Linked DNA regions of Homo sapiens. The protein of the gene in region 1 purifies or fractionates together with the protein of each later gene. This does not show direct contact. Each region holds a gene or a part of one and is shown in the gene's direction. Other genes may lie near its edges.

The links. Proteins that work in one complex are often made in the same cells at the same time.
Region 2: the proteins of HS3ST2 (region 1) and PIGA purify together in Homo sapiens (affinity purification with mass spectrometry; 2 studies listed by BioGRID and IntAct, with this or other methods). This does not show direct contact.
Region 3: the proteins of HS3ST2 (region 1) and GINM1 purify together in Homo sapiens (affinity purification with mass spectrometry; 2 studies listed by BioGRID and IntAct, with this or other methods). This does not show direct contact.

What each region holds. Positions count from the first base shown.
Region 1 is NC_000016.10:22,817,107-22,820,782, forward strand, and holds part of HS3ST2 (heparan sulfate glucosamine 3-O-sulfotransferase 2), read left to right. Parts: exon of another isoform or gene 1-1,347; intron 1,348-3,676. UniProt on the Homo sapiens protein: Sulfotransferase that utilizes 3'-phospho-5'-adenylyl sulfate (PAPS) to catalyze the transfer of a sulfo group to an N-unsubstituted glucosamine linked to a 2-O-sulfo iduronic acid unit on heparan sulfate.
Region 2 is NC_000023.11:15,325,480-15,329,155, reverse strand, and holds part of PIGA (phosphatidylinositol N-acetylglucosaminyltransferase subunit A), read left to right. Parts: exon of another isoform or gene 1-842; coding exon of another isoform or gene 843-935; intron 936-3,109; coding exon 3,110-3,242; intron 3,243-3,676. UniProt on the Homo sapiens protein: Catalytic subunit of the glycosylphosphatidylinositol-N-acetylglucosaminyltransferase (GPI-GnT) complex that catalyzes the transfer of N-acetylglucosamine from UDP-N-acetylglucosamine to phosphatidylinositol and participates in the first step of GPI biosynthesis.
Region 3 is NC_000006.12:149,586,743-149,590,418, forward strand, and holds part of GINM1 (glycoprotein integral membrane protein 1 precursor), read left to right. Parts: intron 1-3,676.

The sequences.
Region 1 (3,676 bases):
TTTTTTATTTATTTATTTTTTTTTAGCACATTTGGATTCTGCTAAAATTCTCAGCTGAGTCTTGGTAGGTTTTATTTAACATCAAGCATGCTGACAGCTCTGCTTCTCTCTTCTCTCCCCCTCTACCACCTTTCCCCACTTTATATTTCTAAAAGACTATCCTAGAGGTCTGGTCGTAATTGCCCTCTCCCCATTGCTTGACCAGGAAGGCTGGGAGGCTCCAGTGTCAGGAAAAGGCTGTGTGGTTTGTGCTTCTTTCAGTTACAAATCCACACCCCTAGAGTCAAGTGTTTAGCTTGTGGATTGCCATTTCTGTGCAGGGTAATACTACCCCACTTAGATGCTGTTTCCATAACCTCCAGAACATCTTTCTGTATGTAAAGAACATTTTTGTACATTTCTTTTTATTATGACCAAGTCATACACATTAACTGCAGAAATCATGGGGATTTCTGGAATCTTTTAAAACCCATGTTCTTACTTTCTTCCTGAATCCCATGAGCTAGGTACGGTGGGTGACAGGATGTTCCGCTCTCTGTCCACTGCCTTGTCAGTTCACAGCTTGCCATCATAAAGCCAGGGTCCACTGGGCAGACATAGCCAAAGAACCCTTGCACCCATTGGAGTGGACTGTGCTTTCCAAAGGGGGAGGTGCAGAGTTGCAGGCAGTGTGGATCTTAGTATGATCTGCCCACATCAAAGCCCCTGGTGATAACTTCCTGATCAGGAGGCTGAAATCCAGATAGTGGAAAAATCAAAAGCTTTACCCTTAACCCAAAGGAGGGGCTTCTTTCTGTGGGTAAATGGAGATAAAGCTGAAGGCCGAGTGATATAGCCAGAAAGACACCATCATTTGGAGAGACCAGGAGACAGAGTCTGCACCTTCTTGTCCTTAGCCTGATCCTTCTTGGGAACCACTCCCGTTCAGGCCACTACCAGAGAGCCCAGCCTTCTGCAGTGGGTTCTCTCCAATTTGCTGTCTTTCTGCCATGCCATCTCTGATGCTTACCTCAACTATGTGTCTGGCCTGGGTTCTCCCCCACCCACATTTCCTCCCCGAGGTAAGAGCTGCAGGGTGGTATCTCCTAGCTGCTTGGACAGGTGGGCAAAGCAACACCAGGCTGATGAGGGAACCAGGACAGGGAACCACAGTCAGAAGACCAGAGGTGGTCACCTAGGTGCTGTATGATTTGAAGAAAGGTGATTCTCCCAAGTCTCAGCTTCCTCATCATGGAATGGGACCTGTAGTAACTATCCTAGAAACGTGTTGTGAAGAATAAATGCAAAACTGTACATGAAATTGCCCTGGAAAATTCTATGATATATAAAGACAAGGCAGTAATGTTACTACTGTTATTGCTACTAATTACTACAACACTCCTGTTATCACTATTAGTTCTGTTAGTATTAAAAATATTAGTTTCTGATGCTGCTGCTGTTACTAAATCGGGCTGAGGAATTAATCAATTGCTATAAAGATAGTTCCATACTTTCCTCTTTATTCCTTCCCTTCCCTTCCTCCTTCCCTCTCTCCCCTTTCCCTTCTCCTTTTCCTTCCTTCCTTCCTTCCTCCCTCCCTCCTTGCCTGCCTTCCTTCCTTCCCTCCTTCCTTCCTTCCCTCCCTCCCTCCTTCCCTTCCTTCCTTCCTTCCTTCATTCCTTCCTTCCCTCCTTCCTTCCTTCCCTCCCTCCCTCCCTTCCTTCCTTCCTTCCTTCCTTCCTTCCTTCCCTCCTTCCTTCCTCCCTCCCTCCCTCCCTCCCTTCCTTCCTTCCTTCCTTCATTCCTTCCTTCCTTCCTTCCCTCCTTCCTTCCTTCCCTCCCTCCCTCCCTCCCTTCCTTCCTTCCTTCCTTCCTTCCTTCCTTCCCTCCTTCCTTCCTTCCCTCCTTCCTTCCTCCCTCCCTCCCTCCCTCCCTTCCTTCCTTCCTTCCTTCATTCCTTCCTTCCTTCCTTCCCTCCTTCCTTCCTTCCCTCCCTCCCTCCCTTCCTCCCTCCCTCCCTTCCTTCCTTCCTTCCTTCCTTCCTTCATTCCTTCCTTCCTTCCTTCCTTCCCTCCTTCCTTCCTTCCCTCCTTCCTTCCTCCCTTCCTCCCTTCCTTTTCTCTTTCCTTCCCTCCTTCCATGTTAACAGAAAGTCAGTTCACATATCTGGGTGTCAGTCTGCTCACCTGTGAAATGGCAATGATGCCTGAACTGCTTTGCAACCTTATAAAAATCAAGTAAGACTATCTACATGAAAATGTTTTTCCAAATCTAAGGTTATCTTTAGGATGCTCTCCATTCTAAGGAAGTTTGGATGTGAAATAGACTCTTCAGGGTCATCTTTTATAAACAGATATAAGCTTTGCTGTGTGTAGTAGTTTTTAGAGTCACAGGGAAAGCTGAGATATGTCTGAAGTGTTCTCAATTTTGCTGGTGTTTCGGTATGGCAGGGGAATGTGTGTGTGGAGGAAGTGTATCTTTTCTAAATGCATTGAAATGCCAACAAGAGCAAGTTAATATGTGATAATTGACTCTGTGTTCTGGTGTCCAAATTTTGATAGATGAGCCTGTTCTATAAATTTCAGACTTCACTTCACAACTCTGGTTATTTATTTGTTCAGCATCGATGATGTTCTTGGGATGGTGCAAAGCAAAGAAGACAGAATATTTGCCCCAGAGGCAACAGTCTAAGTACGAAAGAGAATAAAAAGCCCAGAATAAGATCTATCACATTATCCAGTTCATTTTCATCAAGAAATCATATTCTAATTGCAAAGCCCAATTCTGGAAATGCAAACCTTAGAAAAAAATAAAATCAAAGGCAGAAGGTAAGGGGCCTCCTGCCATGACGTAGTTAATGCAGACAGTTTTATCATCTTTCAACAAATTGATCAACACACAAAACAGACTGATCTGTGCTCATTGGGTGTGCACATAGATGAATGTGTGTGCACACCCACACATGTGCACCTGCATGCACAATTGCAGCATCTATGCAGACTTAGGCCTTTATACAGAAATTCCCTGTCTTGGTCCAGGCGAACGTCACACAGTATGATTAAATGAAACCATTGAGTCCATAAACCCCCCCCCATTTGTCTTGCAGCACTCTGTCAGCCTTGCAGCATGCTGTAGATATAATACTTAGTGCCAGCAAATGTACAGTTCTTGTCAGGCATGGAGGAACATTCGGAATGGGCAACAAGAATTGTCATTGCTCAAGGAAGTTTTTTGAAGAGCTGGTTTCCCTTCCCCTTGGAGCTGAGAAGGGGAATGAAGAACAGGCTTTCCCCAAAGCCTTAGTCTATTAATCCATTTTCACACTGCTGATAAAGACATACCCAACACTGGGTAATTTAAAAAGAAAAAGAGGTTTAATGGACTCACAGTTCCATGTGGCTGAGGAGGCCTCACAATCATGACAGAAGGAGAAAGGCATGTTTTACATGGCAGCAGGCAAGAGAGAAATGAGAGCCAAGCAAAAGGGGAAACTCCGTAAAAAGCCATCAGATTTCGTGAGACTTATTCACCATCACGAGAACAGTATGCGGGAAACCGCCATGATTCAATTATCTCCCACCTGGTCCCTCTGACAACATGTGGGAATTATGGGAGCTACAATTCAAGATGAGATTTGGGTGGGGACACAGCCAAACCCTATCACTTGTTACAGGAGCATTTTAGGTGGAGAAGATGC
Region 2 (3,676 bases), on another chromosome or scaffold:
TGGTGTGCCAGTGTGCTAGGGAGTGGCCTAAAATCTAGATGTGGGCCTTGGTCAGTTTACGTTTGGAATGGAGAATCTTGATTGACCCAGCAGTCCATTTAAGTGGAGGTTGGCAAGGAAACTTGGCCTGAACTTCATTTTCTGGTTTGAAGGCAATGACATGCTTTCATTCTTTAATCAGGAACATGTGAACCGACTGGCATTCTGTATTCTGAATTCCTCCTGGGACATTAGTGATGTGTTTTTTTGTAACTTAGGAATTGTACCTAATTTATTTTTTAACCAAATAGCATATCTTCTTGAGATGGCTAGCTGAGAAAGAGTATGACACAAGTGTGATCAAGGATCAGCAAAATTAACTACCCATGCAAAGATTAAACCTGTTACCTTTACTTCCCTAATGTGGTATTTTAACTAGCTGAGCTAACCACCAATGGAGTGATGGTATGGCCTTTCCTGTACTCAATTCAGTAATTGAACAGTTATTTATCGAACCCTCTCCAGATGCCAGGCACCCTGCAGAAAGTAACATTCTGAAAAGGAACAGCCATGCCTGTAGCCCAAAAGTGAGTAGTTGTATTAATGGTCCATTCCTTATTAACAAATTAATTTCCTCAGGAGTTTATTGGACCAGATATCAAAGTCCCACTGGAATGTCTTAAGTGAGAGAGAGGATAAATCAAAGTTTTCCTTATCCAGGCTTTTTGGATGTCTTTTTCCTGAGCCTCCTCTTCCAAGCCTGTTTTGCTCTCAGTCAGGATTTACCAGCACTCTGCATGTGTAGGCACGCTCACCTGCTTCCTTCTGTAGTGGTAATGACAACCTACATTTGTATTCTGCAGTTGATAAAGCCTGTTCGTGGTACAATACCTCATTTGACCCTCCCAACAACTGTAGGGTAGATGTTATCTACATGAAATTGAGTCTCAGAGAGGGTAAGTAACTCACCCAGGTTACACAGTAAGTAACAGAGATGACACACGAGTTCAGCTTTTCTGGAGCTAAGTTCTCCTCTTCCTCCACCCATGCCCAGCCACTCATATCCTAGGTGTAGATCAGAAGGTTCTTAAAAATATTGTTAGACTGAGCTTTAAAAGCAGTTTGGATCAGAGATTTTCATTGTCTGTTTTGTGTTCACATGGCAGTCGAAAGTCTCTAGGTTCCATTGCATTATACCCTTCTTAGAGGCTCCAGAATAAATTTTTTTATAGTGGTGGGGAAAAGCCCTTATTCTTAGAATAAGAATATAGATCATTGGTAATAGTAATCAGTTCCATTTCTTATGAGATACTTGTCAGGATTAAATGACATAATGAATTTAAAGTATATTGCCTGTCATAGCAAGCACTCTGTTACTGTTAGCTATTATCATTTATGACTATTGCTCTATGTTGTTTTTTGTTTGTTTGAAGAATGGGCTCTTAACCTTGTACGAGAAAGAAAAGGGTGAGGAAGAAAATGGATTGAAGGAATTGTAGGAGACTAAATGTTAAAAGTCATTAAACTACCTTCTGGTTTATCTAGAAATCCAATTGAGTGATTTGTTAGTAGACATGAAACAAAGATAGCTATGATTTTAATGAGAAGCCTTCATATTCAGAAAAGCTGCGTGGGAATTTTTGATACATACAATAACAGTTTGAAAGTACTAGCAGAGTTTACTTAATGAATTCTACTTTGTATTATTTAATAAAAATGACCCTATAATATATATGTCATTTCTCCTATTTTATATCTGATATAAAATATCATCTATTTTATAACTGATCTGCCTATTTGGGGTGGAAGATTAAGAAATACAATTCTTATGTGTGTGTGCATTTTTAAAATTAATAAACTTAGCTCTAGGTGGATTATTTTATATTTACTTTTACTTTTTTTTTGTTTTTTTTTTTTTGAGACGGAGTCTCGCTCTGTCTCCCAGGCTGGAGTGCAGTGGCGCAATCTCGGCTCACTGCAAACTCCGCCTCCCGGGTTCACGCCATTCTCCTGCCTCAGCCTCCGGAGTAGCTGGGACTACAGGCGCCCGCCACTACGCCCGGCTAATTTTTTGTATTTTTAGTAGAGACGGGGTTTCACCATGTTAGCCAGGATGGTCTCAATTTCCTGACCTTGTGATCCGCCTGCCTTGGCCTCCCGAAATGCTGGGATTACTGGGATTACAGGCGTGAGCCACCGCGCCCTGCCTACTCTTACTTTTGAATATGTACGTTTTGTAATTGTTAATGAACTAGATTCTTAAATAGTGTTGACATTGTTGGGACTTTGGATAGCCACTCACTTTTTCAGACTAATAGGGCATAATTTACTTTATTGTTTTCTATTACCTGAGATTGTGTTTATATATTATAAGAAAATCATTTTGGAGAAAAAAGGAGCCAAGATGCATCCTTTTGTTCTATGGACTGTAGTGATCTAACAGTTGATGCCCTGCTGCCTTCATTTACCCTCATTCCAGGAAAGTGGGCTATAGCTGGTTTGAACTTAAATTTTGCGATAATGTAGTGTTCACTGCAAAATTCTCTGTACCAGCCACATTTTAAACAAAGTGGAGGCAGCAGTTAGATTTCGTTGCTTAGCCTTTTCCTGTGGCAGTAAGTGGGATCACAGACTGATAGAATTTTATAGCTGAAAGAGACTTTAGGTACATAGGTATCTTTATTTTATAGATCTTGAAACTTCCCCACGATCAATGGGCTTGCTGGTTAAAAAAGCTGGGAAAAGACCCAGATCTCCAATCAGCTGCCTGCTCTGGAGAAAACGAACTCAAACCTTAGCCACCTTAAATATACCTTTTTTAGAAGTACGCAATGTATAAACACAAGTGAATAACTTAAAGAATAGTCTGTTGAGATGAAACAGAATAGTCCATATTTTGGGTGTGTGGAAGGTAATGCATGTCAAGGTCTACGTCTTCAAGAATTGTAACTCTTGGGGGACCACTGCCAGTTTGCAAACAATTCCACTCCTGGAAAAGGTTTAAGAGAGTTTCTCTCCTTTATGGAGTGCATAGCTAATACTTTTCAAAATAAGTGGATTCTCAGTCGTTCTGGTGAATTTTTTTAAGTTTAAATATTAATATCTCCAACATTCAACTTTATATTTTCAGGGATCGATTTGCTTAGTGGTATAATACCTGAACTCTGTCAGAAATATCCAGATTTAAATTTCATAATTGGAGGAGAGGGACCAAAGAGAATCATTTTGGAAGAAGTTCGGGAAAGATACCAGCTGCATGACAGGTATTGATGAATTTCATGTTGTCTTGAGGGAGAAGATGTCAATTATCTCTATTTGGTTTTAACTGCATGCGTACCTTAGGTGTGTTGCTTCTCCTGCATGTAATTGATATACATATAATTGATATAAATCTAATGCAAGGACTGTTTTCAAAATTTTTATATAAATAGGAAACCTAGTTAATTCACTATTTTTTCCATTAGCCCAATATTATTTGACTTTGGGGGGCCATTGTTGGAGGCACCATGAAAGGCACAAAAAACAGCTGCTTTAACTGGAAGCGTTTGCAGATTTCCAGGCCATACTGTGTAGTGATTTAAGTAATAGGGCTCAAATCATGTAAATTGCTCTGCACATACAGATTTGGACAAGTCTCTTCCTCAGTAACTTACACAACACAAGGCTTGTACGTGTAAAGCATCAATTTTAATAAAAA
Region 3 (3,676 bases), on another chromosome or scaffold:
TATTTTATTTTTTATTACTTATTTTTGAGACAAGGTCTCACCTTGACACCCAGGCTGGAATGCAGTGGCTCAGTCATGGCTCACTGCAGCCTCAATCTCCCAAGACTCAAGTGATCCTCTCACCTCAATCTCCCAAGACTCAAGTGATCCTCTCACCTCAGCCTCCTGAGTAGCTAGGACTAAGGTGTGTGTCACCATGCCCAGCTAATTTTTTTAATTTATTTTTTGTAGAGGCCAGGTTGGCCCAGGCTGGTCTCAAACTCCTGGGGTCAAGCAGTCCTTCCACCTTGGCTTCCCAAAGTTCTGGGATTACAGGCATCAGCCACCATGCCCAGCCCTTAATATTATTTTTAACTGACATGTCATAATTATGTATAGCTTACCTATTCTTTTTATGGCTGCATAGTTCTAAAGGAGATAGGAAAAACCAAAGCATAGGAAAAATACTTTGGTTTTTCCTACTCTGACACTCTGGAGTACTTCACGTTTGGGCACCAATACGTGTGTGGGGATTTTTCACCACCAATAACTAATTCTCCAGTGGACACCAGCTGGGTGTCCTCTAATTCAGTTCAGTTCTGACACTTTCCACCTGGACACAGCGTCAGATCCCACAGGCTAAGGGCTTAGTTCCACAAGACTGCCCCCCTTCAGATGCCAGTTGTAAGCCCCAGGTTGTGATGTGTGATTCTGACCAGCTGGGTATAAAGAGGTTGCCATGACTTCCTCTTTGGGTTTGATTAATTTGCTTGGGACGTCTTTGGGGCGGCTCACAGATCTCAGGGAAACACCTCCACTTACTGGTTTATTACAAAGGAAACATGAAGAGGCAGATGGAAGAAGTGCATAGGGCAAGACATGGGGAGGGGGAGAGGGGTTCAGAGCTTCCCTGCCCTCCCTAGGTGCACCTCTATCCAGGTCCCATACCTCTGTGTGTTCAGCTATCCAGAAGCTCTCCAAAGCTAGTCCTTTTGGGTTCTTTTGCAGGTTTCATCACACAGGCATGATTGATTACATCATTGGTCACTGGTGATCAACTCAACCTTCAGTACCCCGTTCCCTTCCCCAAGGTTGGGGGATGGGACTGATCTCATGGTTGATACCCCTGGCAACCAGCTCCCCTGTTGAGGCTATCCAGGATCCCCCAGCCATCAGTCATCATTAGCATCCAAAAGATACTTACCACTTTGGAGATTTAAGGATTTTAGGAGCTGTTCCAGGAAGCCAGAGGAACTTACAAGTCATAATATCACAGGTGTTCCACAGTATAGATATACCTTAATATAACCATTCCTCTAACATTTAGGTAATTTCCAATTTCATGTTAATCCCAATAATGTTCTAGTATACATCCTTGCACATATATTTCTTTGCACATGTGTATTTATGTAGAATAGATTCCTAAAAGTAAAATTACTGTGTCACAAGTAATTGTATTAACTCCTTACAACCTGATGATAATCTTTTTTGGTTTTGCTACTAAAAATATAATTCATCTTAATTTGCATTTTCATCTTACTAGCATCTTTGCTAGTTTAGGTCTGGGTGGGTTCAACATCTTTGTGATAATTGGCTATATATGATTCTCTCATGACTTGCTTACGTAGAGCCTCTGGCCATTTTTCAATTGTGTTGGCATTTTGTAACTATTAGTATATAAGAGCTCTTTTGTCTGTTATACATATGTAATGCACATTGCAGATTTTTTTACTAATCCCAGCCTATCGTTTGTCTTTTGCTTATTTATGGTATCTCATCATACAAAAGCTTTAAATTCAAGGCCTAAGTAATTCATGTTATTCCTTTACAGCATGTAGGGTTTTTATTTTGCCTACTAAGTAGGCCAGACTTTCCTATCTTAAAATTATGGGGCTTTTTTTGTTTGTTTTTTGTTTTTTAAAGACAGGGTTTTGTTCTGTTGCCCAGGCTGGAGTACAGTGGCAGTGCTATCAAGGCCCACTGCAGCCTTGACCCTCCTGGGTTCAAGCGATCCTCCTGCCTCAGCCTCCCAAGTAGCTGGGACTACAGGCACTTGCCACCCTGCCTGGCTAATTTGTTGTTGTTGTTGTTGTTGTTGTTGAGACACAGTCTTGCTCTGTTGCCCTGGCTGGAGTGCAGTGGTGTGATCTTGGCTTGCTGCAACCTCCACCTCCTGGTTTCAAGCAATTCTCATGCCTCAGCCTCCTGAATAGCTTGAGATTACAGGCGCCCGCCACCATGCCTGGCCAATTTTTGTATTTTTAGTAGAGATGGGTTTCACCATGTTGGCCAGGATGGTCTCGAACTCCTGACCTCAAGTGACCCACCCGTCTCGGCCTCCCAAAGTGCTGGGATTGCAGGCGTGAGCCACCGTGCCCAGCCATTTTTTTAAAAAAAATTTATTTTGTGTAGAGACAGGGTCTCACTATGTTGCCCAGGCTGGACTCCTTGGGCCCAAGCAGTCCTCCTGCTTCAGCCTCCAAAGGTGCTGGGATTACTAAGGGCATGAGCCACTGTGCCCAGCCATTATATTTTCTTAAAATTTATTTATTTATTTATTTATATATTTGAGACAGAGTCTCGCTTTGTTGCCCAGGCTAGAGTGCAGTGGCACAATCTCTGCTCACTGCAACCTCAACTTCCCGGGGTCAAGAGATTCTCCTGCCTCAGCCTCCCGAGTAGCTGGGATTACAGGCGTGCACCACCACAGCCGGCTAATTTATGTATTTTTAGTAGAGACAGGGTTTCACCATGTTGGCCAGGCTGGCCTCGAACTCCTGACCTCAGGTGATCCACCCACCTCAGCCTCCCAAAGTGCTGGGATTACAGGCATGAGCCACTGCACCCAGCCAAAATTTATTTTTTAGCATTACTTTTCTGTATACTTTTAAAGCTAGAGTTCTCATTTTGTTTCCCAGACAGAGGCCATTTTTCCATTAGTAATTTATCATTGACTTAGAATGTTACCTTATTATAAACTAAATTTCCATATATGTTAGTCTTTTTCTGGACTGTTTTCTGTCCTAGTGATCTATTTGTCTATTCCTGTGCCAGTAGCACAGTTTTAATTACTCTCATGTTTTGTTTTTGTTTTTGAGACAGGGGCTAACTTTGTCACCCAGGCGGCAGTGCAGTGGCACGATCTCGGCTCACTGCAACCTCCACTTCCCGGGTTCAAGCGATCCTCCCACCTCAGCCTCCTGAATAGCTAGCTAGCTGGGACTGCATGTGTCCCATGCCCAGCTAATTTTTTCTATTTTTAGTAGAGATGGGGTTTTGCCATGTTTCCCAGGCTGATCTTGAACTCCTGGGCTCAAGTGATCTGCCCGCCTTGGCCTCCCAAAGTGCTGGGATTATAGGTGTGAGCCCCTACACCTGGCCTACTATCATGTTTTAATAAAACCTTTGAGAGCTACTTAAGACAACTTTGTCTTCTCCCCATTGTTCTTTTAAAAAAAATCTTATGGCTGTTCTTGCAGTTACTCCCCTGTGAACTTTAGAATCTGTTTGGTTCTATAAACAACTAACCCCCGTTGATGTTCTTATTAGAATAACACTGAATTTACAATGCAGGGTCCTAGATTCAATCCAAAGACGTACTCTCTGGTCAGGGATTTTAAGTAACAAAAAGAGCAACACTATCTAAAGACCTAAGGTTGTGTTGTGGTGGTGAGTATTATTTAGAGAGAGGCTTAGG